2 linked regions of the Homo sapiens genome follow. The protein of the gene in region 1 purifies or fractionates together with the protein of each later gene. This does not show direct contact. Each region holds a gene or a part of one and is shown in the gene's direction. Other genes may lie near its edges. The genes, in order: OR12D3 and ALDOB.

Region 1 (4,034 bases):
CTATTTATTTCTTTAGCTATATGCCAAAAGTTTTGATATATCTCATCTTCATCATTGTTCATTTCAATTTTTTTCTAATTTTATTTGAATTTTTTCTTTATGAATTATTTGTGTGTATTACATAATATGAAGCAATTGGTGAGTTTCTAGATGCATTTTTCTTATTGTTTTTTAATTCCAGTGTGGTCAAGGGACATTCTTTGAATAGCTCAACCTTTTGAAACCTTTTGAAGCCTTTTGGTAATACTCAACTCATGCTTGATTTTGTAAATATGTACAAGATATACTTGAAAATAATGTGAATTATTTTTTGGTTGGGTTCAGTGTTCTTTATATGTTAATCAAATTTGTAAATTATGTTGTTCAGATGTTTATATCCTTACTGACTTTTTGGCTGATTCTTCTGTCAGGTATAGAGAGAAACTTGTTAAATCTTCTCATTGTGATTGTGGTTTTAACTATGTCTTTATTTCTGTCTATTTTTAGAGTTATTTTATGGAGAACTTACACTGGAGAACTTATGATATTGTGGACCAATTATTAGCAGAAGAATCTTAGTAGGCATGGGTGGGAGGAGTATCCTAGTTAGCCTTTCCAATTCCTCAGTGCAAGGGCTCCCTCTTCTGTTGATAAGGTGGTGATTATTATTATTGTTATTATTATTATTATTATTAATTACTTACAAATGACAAGCTTCCTTTGTTCTTCATATATTTACTATACCTCTTCTCTCCATCACCTTCAGTGCTTAGACTGTGCCTTTTTCTATCCCCTGCCCCACAGAAATTCTCACTCCCTGGGAGGTACTCCCCTTTTGGATTGAAAAATTGGGGGTGTTTTCGAAGTTCTTCTACTAATGGGACCTCTAACTATTTCAAGTTTTTCCCAACTACATCCACTGCCTCATTGCTATGACACAGTCTTGTGACTAATGATGCTAATTTTGCTGTTTTTTTCTCCTCTACTCATACAACATTTGGTTTGTGGGTGTTTATGTTTCTTACTTTCACTGAAAGTTTGGGTTGTCAGAAGACATGTGTTACTCTCTTGTGGCTTTTATGTATCTTAGAAGAAGTGATGAAATCCCCACTGAGCTACATCTGAATTTTTGCCAGAACCTAGAATCATAAGTTGAAAAACTATTCCCTGTTTGTATGTTTAAAATTTTTGTAATACATAATTCTAATGCCATACATGAGGTTATGATTATGTCCATCAAATCTTGCACTTCCTAGTTTTGAAAACAAATGCCCTTTATCTATATCTGATTTGTTCATAATATAATGCTTTTATTAGTCTAGTGCCATTTTAACAGCTCAGAATTTATCAGGTATATTAGTCTTCCTCAATTTTGTTGTACATAAATTTAGTTTTACTGTTCGTAACTATTCTTCACACTGTTGCTCACCCCTAGGTTCCTCCAAATAGTAAACTTGCTTTATTTAATCCTCACAGTGTAAAATTAAAAATTCAGAAAAATTAATTCTGTTATTGTTAAATTTGCTTCCCAGAGCAATGGAGAATGTCACTACAATGAATGAGTTTCTTCTACTTGGCCTGACTGGTGTTCAGGAGCTGCAGCCTTTCTTCTTTGGGATTTTCTTAATCATTTACCTGATAAACTTGATTGGAAATGGATCTATATTGGTGATGGTTGTTTTGGAACCACAACTCCACTCCCCTATGTATTTTTTTCTGGGAAACCTTTCTTGTCTGGATATTTCTTATTCTTCAGTGACACTGCCCAAGCTGCTCGTAAACCTCGTGTGCAGTCGCAGGGCTATATCTTTTCTAGGCTGTATCACCCAGCTACACTTCTTCCACTTTTTGGGAAGCACAGAGGCCATTTTACTGGCTATCATGGCCTTTGACCGTTTTGTTGCCATCTGCAATCCTCTTCGCTACACTGTCATCATGAACCCCCAGGTGTGTATTCTGTTGGCAGCTGCGGCCTGGCTCATCAGCTTCTTTTACGCTCTGATGCATTCTGTCATGACTGCACACCTGAGTTTTTGTGGCTCTCAGAAACTCAATCACTTCTTCTACGATGTCAAGCCGCTCTTAGAATTGGCCTGTAGTGACACATTACTCAATCAATGGCTTCTTTCCATTGTCACAGGCAGCATATCCATGGGAGCTTTCTTTCTGACTCTTCTCTCCTGCTTCTATGTAATTGGCTTCCTTCTGTTTAAGAACAGGTCCTGCAGAATACTCCACAAGGCTCTGTCCACTTGTGCCTCCCATTTTATGGTGGTATGTCTTTTCTATGGACCTGTGGGCTTCACATATATTCGTCCTGCTTCAGCCACCTCCATGATTCAGGACCGGATAATGGCCATCATGTATAGCGCCGTCACCCCTGTACTGAATCCACTAATCTACACCCTTAGGAACAAAGAAGTGATGATGGCTCTGAAGAAAATCTTTGGTAGGAAGTTGTTTAAAGACTGGCAGCAACACCACTAGGACTAATGAGGGATATCTGATTTCTATTAAGACTGATTTCCATCACTTCACTGTAAGAAATGATTTGTTTACCTGGTTTATATTTTTCTTTCAAAAATTTTGAGCACATATTATATTAGGCAGTGTAGTAGGTTCAAGAAACACAGGAGCAAGCAAAACAAATTCCATAATGTCATCAAACATAAAGTTTAATGTGATGGAGGCCCCAAATAACCAAACGCGTAAGTACATATGTCAGGATAATTCGGTGGCAAGGAGAACTAAGGAGGTAGGAAGTATGGGGAGGGTTAGAGTAGGAATCTGCTGTGTAAAAAAGAATGTGGCATTTCTCCTAGGACAAAAACCTTTGGAATTTTCCAAGTAATAGAAGTATCTTACTGAAATTCCATATGAGATAATCTTTATTTTTGCCTATTTTTTTTCCTTTTGTGTTTCCTTCAGCAGGAAAGTACTGATGATAATTTTTCTCACAACAGTTTTTATCTAGAATATCATTTTTGTTAATCTTAATTCTTGAAGAGAATTTTTAATGGGTATTTAATTTTAGGGAGAGATTTTTCTAGCCATTGAAAATATCTTGTTTTTCCCCAGCTTATTGAAGTATAATTAACAAATAAAAATTGCATATATTTAGGCTTCACAACATGATGCTTTAGTATATGTATACATTGTGAAGAGACTACCACAATCAAGCTAAACCTACATTACTGTCCCTGCATTAGTTTACTGTTGAATACTAGAAGTTCTTCATTCTATCTAACTGCATTTTCATACCCATTAAGCCAATGTGACAAGCTCTTTGTTTCAGTTGGAGTGTTTGCACAATTTAAATTTGATAAATTTTTGATAGAATTAAATTTAAATTTATCCTCCAACTAAATTTTTGATAGAATTAAATTTAAATTTGTCCTCCAACTGTTTGCCTTTCATTTGTCCTATTTGTCCGTTATTGCTTCTTCTTTCATTTACTGTTTTTTATGGGAATATTTTTATGATTTCATTATATTTTCACTATTGTCCTTTTATTTATACCTTTTTATTTTATATTTTTGTGGTTACTCTGGGGTTTACAATGTACATTTTAAATTCACAAAATATTTCTTCACATAATATTACACCATTTAAGATGTATTGCTAGAGTCATGCCATACTGTACTTCCATCTCCCTGCTCATGCTTTGTGATTTTAATGTCACACATTTTACTTTTACTTATGTTATTAGTATCCAAGATACTGCAATTCTGTTTTTTTTGAAAAATTCTATTATTTTTAAGGTAATTAAAAATAATAAAAATGTCTTTTACACTTAAACACATATTTATAATTTCTGGCACTTTTGGTCCCTTCATGGAGACACTGATTTTCATCTCGTATCATTTTTTTGTTGTTGTTGTCTAAAGACTTTCCTTAACTATTTCTTGTAGTAAAGTTCTGCTGGTAATAATTTACTTCAGCTTTTGTTGGCATGAAAAAGTACTTTGCCCTTATTTTTAAGAGATGTTTTCTCTGTATATAAAATTTTAAATTGCCAGACTTTTGTTTATGTGCTTTAAAGCTGTTGCTCCATT
Region 2 (3,192 bases), on another chromosome or scaffold:
TTTTCAAAGTAGTGCTTTACCTTGACTGTGGAAAGCAGGGTGCAGCAGTGCTGCTGTGTGGCTGATGGACTGAGGAGACCTAGCTTACATGATGGAGGGATTGTGAAAGCGCAGGTCATCAGGGACATCCACACAGAAGAAGGGAAGCTGAGTTTATCATCAAGGATGGTGCTTCCCAAGCTCCAGTGTGGATCTGAATCACCTGAAGGTGATTTTGGTTTTGTTGTCATGATCTTTTATATTTACACACAATAATTGTATAGATCTGTGGGGTATCTGTGATTTTTTATATATGCATATAATGTATAATGATCAAATCAGGATAATTAGGGTATTCACTCCAAATATTTATTATTTCTTTGGGTTTGGAACATTCCAAATCTTCTCTTCCAGCTATTTTAAAATATGTAATAAATCATTGTTAACTATAGTCATCTTACTGTTGTATCAAACACTAGAACTTATTCCTTCTGCCTAACTGTATTTTTGTACCCATTACCAACCTCTTTTCATTTCCCCTACCCCCACTTGAAGCGCTTGTTAAAAATGCAGATTATGGGTCTCACCCACTGAGTTTCTAATTCAGTAGGTCAGGGGTAAGGCCAGGGAATTTCTATTTTTAACATGTTCCTAAGGGATGCTGGTAGACCATGAAACACAGTTGGAGAACCATTGATGTAAAATGTAGAAATAAGTCCTGGAGAGAACAGACAATAGCAACACTGACTGGAAGAAGTGGTACCACTGAGTGACATTCAAATATTGTCGTAAGTTTCATAATTCTGAATTTATCTTTAACTGGAATGTATACAGGAAAGCAAATGATACTACAATAACTAAATAAAAATTACATATTCTTCTAGACCAATATAGGTAGAAAATGGAAATGTTTTTAAAATAAACATGTTTTTCTTTTGGTATAGTGTACTATACTAGTGAGAAATTTTTCAACTTTAGTTTCTAGTACTGTTGCTGCAATATTGTTGGTACTGAACAGAGATTTCCCCAGTAACTGACACAAACCTCAAGCTTACCAAAGAAATGCTCAGAAAACTGGGATAAAAAGGGGAGATACTTTATAGAAGGGGATGGTATCCCCAGCAATATTCAGCAACATTGCTGTAAAAAGAAGAAAATCTGAGTGAAGGTTTGACTGGTTTCCCATGAGAGGCAGACAGGGTCAAGGTGGGGTCACATTTACTCTAACCAGTCTCCTCTCTCATATTTGTCTTCTAGGCTAACTGCCAGGCGGCCAAAGGACAGTATGTTCACACGGGTTCTTCTGGGGCTGCTTCCACCCAGTCGCTCTTCACAGCCTGCTATACCTACTAGGGTCCAATGCCCGCCAGCCTAGCTCCAGTGCTTCTAGTAGGAGGGCTGAAAGGGAGCAACTTTTCCTCCAATCCTGGAAATTCGACACAATTAGATTTGAACTGCTGGAAATACAACACATGTTAAATCTTAAGTACAAGGGGGAAAAAATAAATCAGTTATTGAAACATAAAAATGAATACCAAGGACCTGATCAAATTTCACACAGCAGTTTCCTTGCAACACTTTCAGCTCCCCATGCTCCAGAATACCCACCCAAGAAAATAATAGGCTTTAAAACAATATCGGCTCCTCATCCAAAGAACAACTGCTGATTGAAACACCTCATTAGCTGAGTGTAGAGAAGTGCATCTTATGAAACAGTCTTAGCAGTGGTAGGTTGGGAAGGAGATAGCTGCAACCAAAAAAGAAATAAATATTCTATAAACCTTCAGCTGCTATCGGGTTTCACTTTTCTGCTCTTGCTGTCCAAAGACTCAGTGTATTTCATTACTTTTGACTCTACTAGACATGACTGGGTTTCAACAGTAAAGGTCTTCAACTCTTGCTAGTCATTGGAATCAAGCCGCAAAATTTTAAAAACTGAGATGCTCAGGCCACACCCCAGCTCAATTAAATCAGAAACCCTAGACTTGGGATCCTCTAACTATTAGATTTCTTAAAGCTCCCTCAGTAATTCCAATGTACAGTCAAGTTTGAGAACTACCAATCTAAATTTCAAGTTTGAGGGTATTTGAAAATTAAAGCCATTCACAATACGAAGCCAGCTAAAAATGTAGAATGATTTTGAGCAACTTGTGGAGTATAATAAGAGAATTAATGTGACTTCAATGCTTGGAGCATTCTTGTTCAAGTGGCCCAGGTTTGGTGAAACAGGACTACCTTGTCATCTGCACGTCCAGGCATATTTCGTAGTTTTGCAGTAAATAATATTCACATAATGATACTGTATTGACTTTCAATTTTCAGAATTAACCTATAGTTACAGCACTTAAGACAACCAGAGTTATAAAAGAGAATTTAAATATTATAACTTTGGACAATATAAAAGTGATGATTTAACTGACAGAAGCTAGGAAATATAAGGGGGAGGAGAAGTGGAAGAAAGCAAAGAGAGTCAGGAATACTACTTAAAACTGATGGGTTAAGAAATAGTGCTTTAATTCTATTTAAGTAATAAAAGAAATGGATGTAAATCATAAAAATATATATCTAAAATTAAAATATTGATGGTAGTATGCTAAATTTCTTACCTTGAATAATACAAAGACAAATGGTATTGTGTAGATTAACAAATGAAGAAACAGAGACTTAACATATTATTTAGAGGAATAAGACAGAATTAGCCAAAGGGGCTTACTCTAAGACCTGGGAGAAAGACCTGGGAGTCAGGGCACAGGAAAGATGACATTTCCTTATTACCTGCCCTCTACAGTATTTGAATATTTATTTCCATGTACTTGTCATTACTTTTCTAAAAACAACTACAGACAGTCATACAAGCAACTCAAGCCTATATGAGAGATCTATTAAGCCCACGGTTTTCATTTTACAGGTGATAAAACCAAGTCCAGAGAAGTAAAATTACTTACTGAGGATCCCACATTTATAGCAGAGCTGAGAGATTAAAATTCAGGTCTTCTGAACTCAAGTCTCTTGCTCAAAAAGTGGATACACAGCCAGAGATCTTACAGGGCAAGGTGACAGGCTGTGTTCAATATCTCTGCCACCCGTGGTGTAGTCTTGTACATTTCTCCTTGTACATTTCAGTCAATCATCAAGCACTTCATCTCCTACTATGTGCCAAGCTGTCCTAAAAGCAGGTAGGTAACACCTTGTGAGACAAAGCTTTTCTGCCAG

What was found.
Region 2: the proteins of OR12D3 (region 1) and ALDOB purify together in Homo sapiens (affinity purification with mass spectrometry; one large-scale study listed by BioGRID and IntAct). This does not show direct contact.

What each region holds. Positions count from the first base shown.
Region 1 is NC_000006.12:29,372,769-29,376,802, reverse strand, and holds OR12D3 (olfactory receptor 12D3), read left to right. Parts: upstream 1-1,511; 5' UTR 1,512-1,515; coding exon 1,516-2,466; 3' UTR 2,467-3,380; downstream 3,381-4,034. UniProt on the Homo sapiens protein: Odorant receptor.
Region 2 is NC_000009.12:101,419,949-101,423,140, reverse strand, and holds the end of ALDOB (fructose-bisphosphate aldolase B), read left to right. Parts: intron 1-1,236; coding exon 1,237-1,332; 3' UTR 1,333-2,581; downstream 2,582-3,192. UniProt on the Homo sapiens protein: Catalyzes the aldol cleavage of fructose 1,6-biphosphate to form two triosephosphates dihydroxyacetone phosphate and D-glyceraldehyde 3-phosphate in glycolysis as well as the reverse stereospecific aldol addition reaction in gluconeogenesis.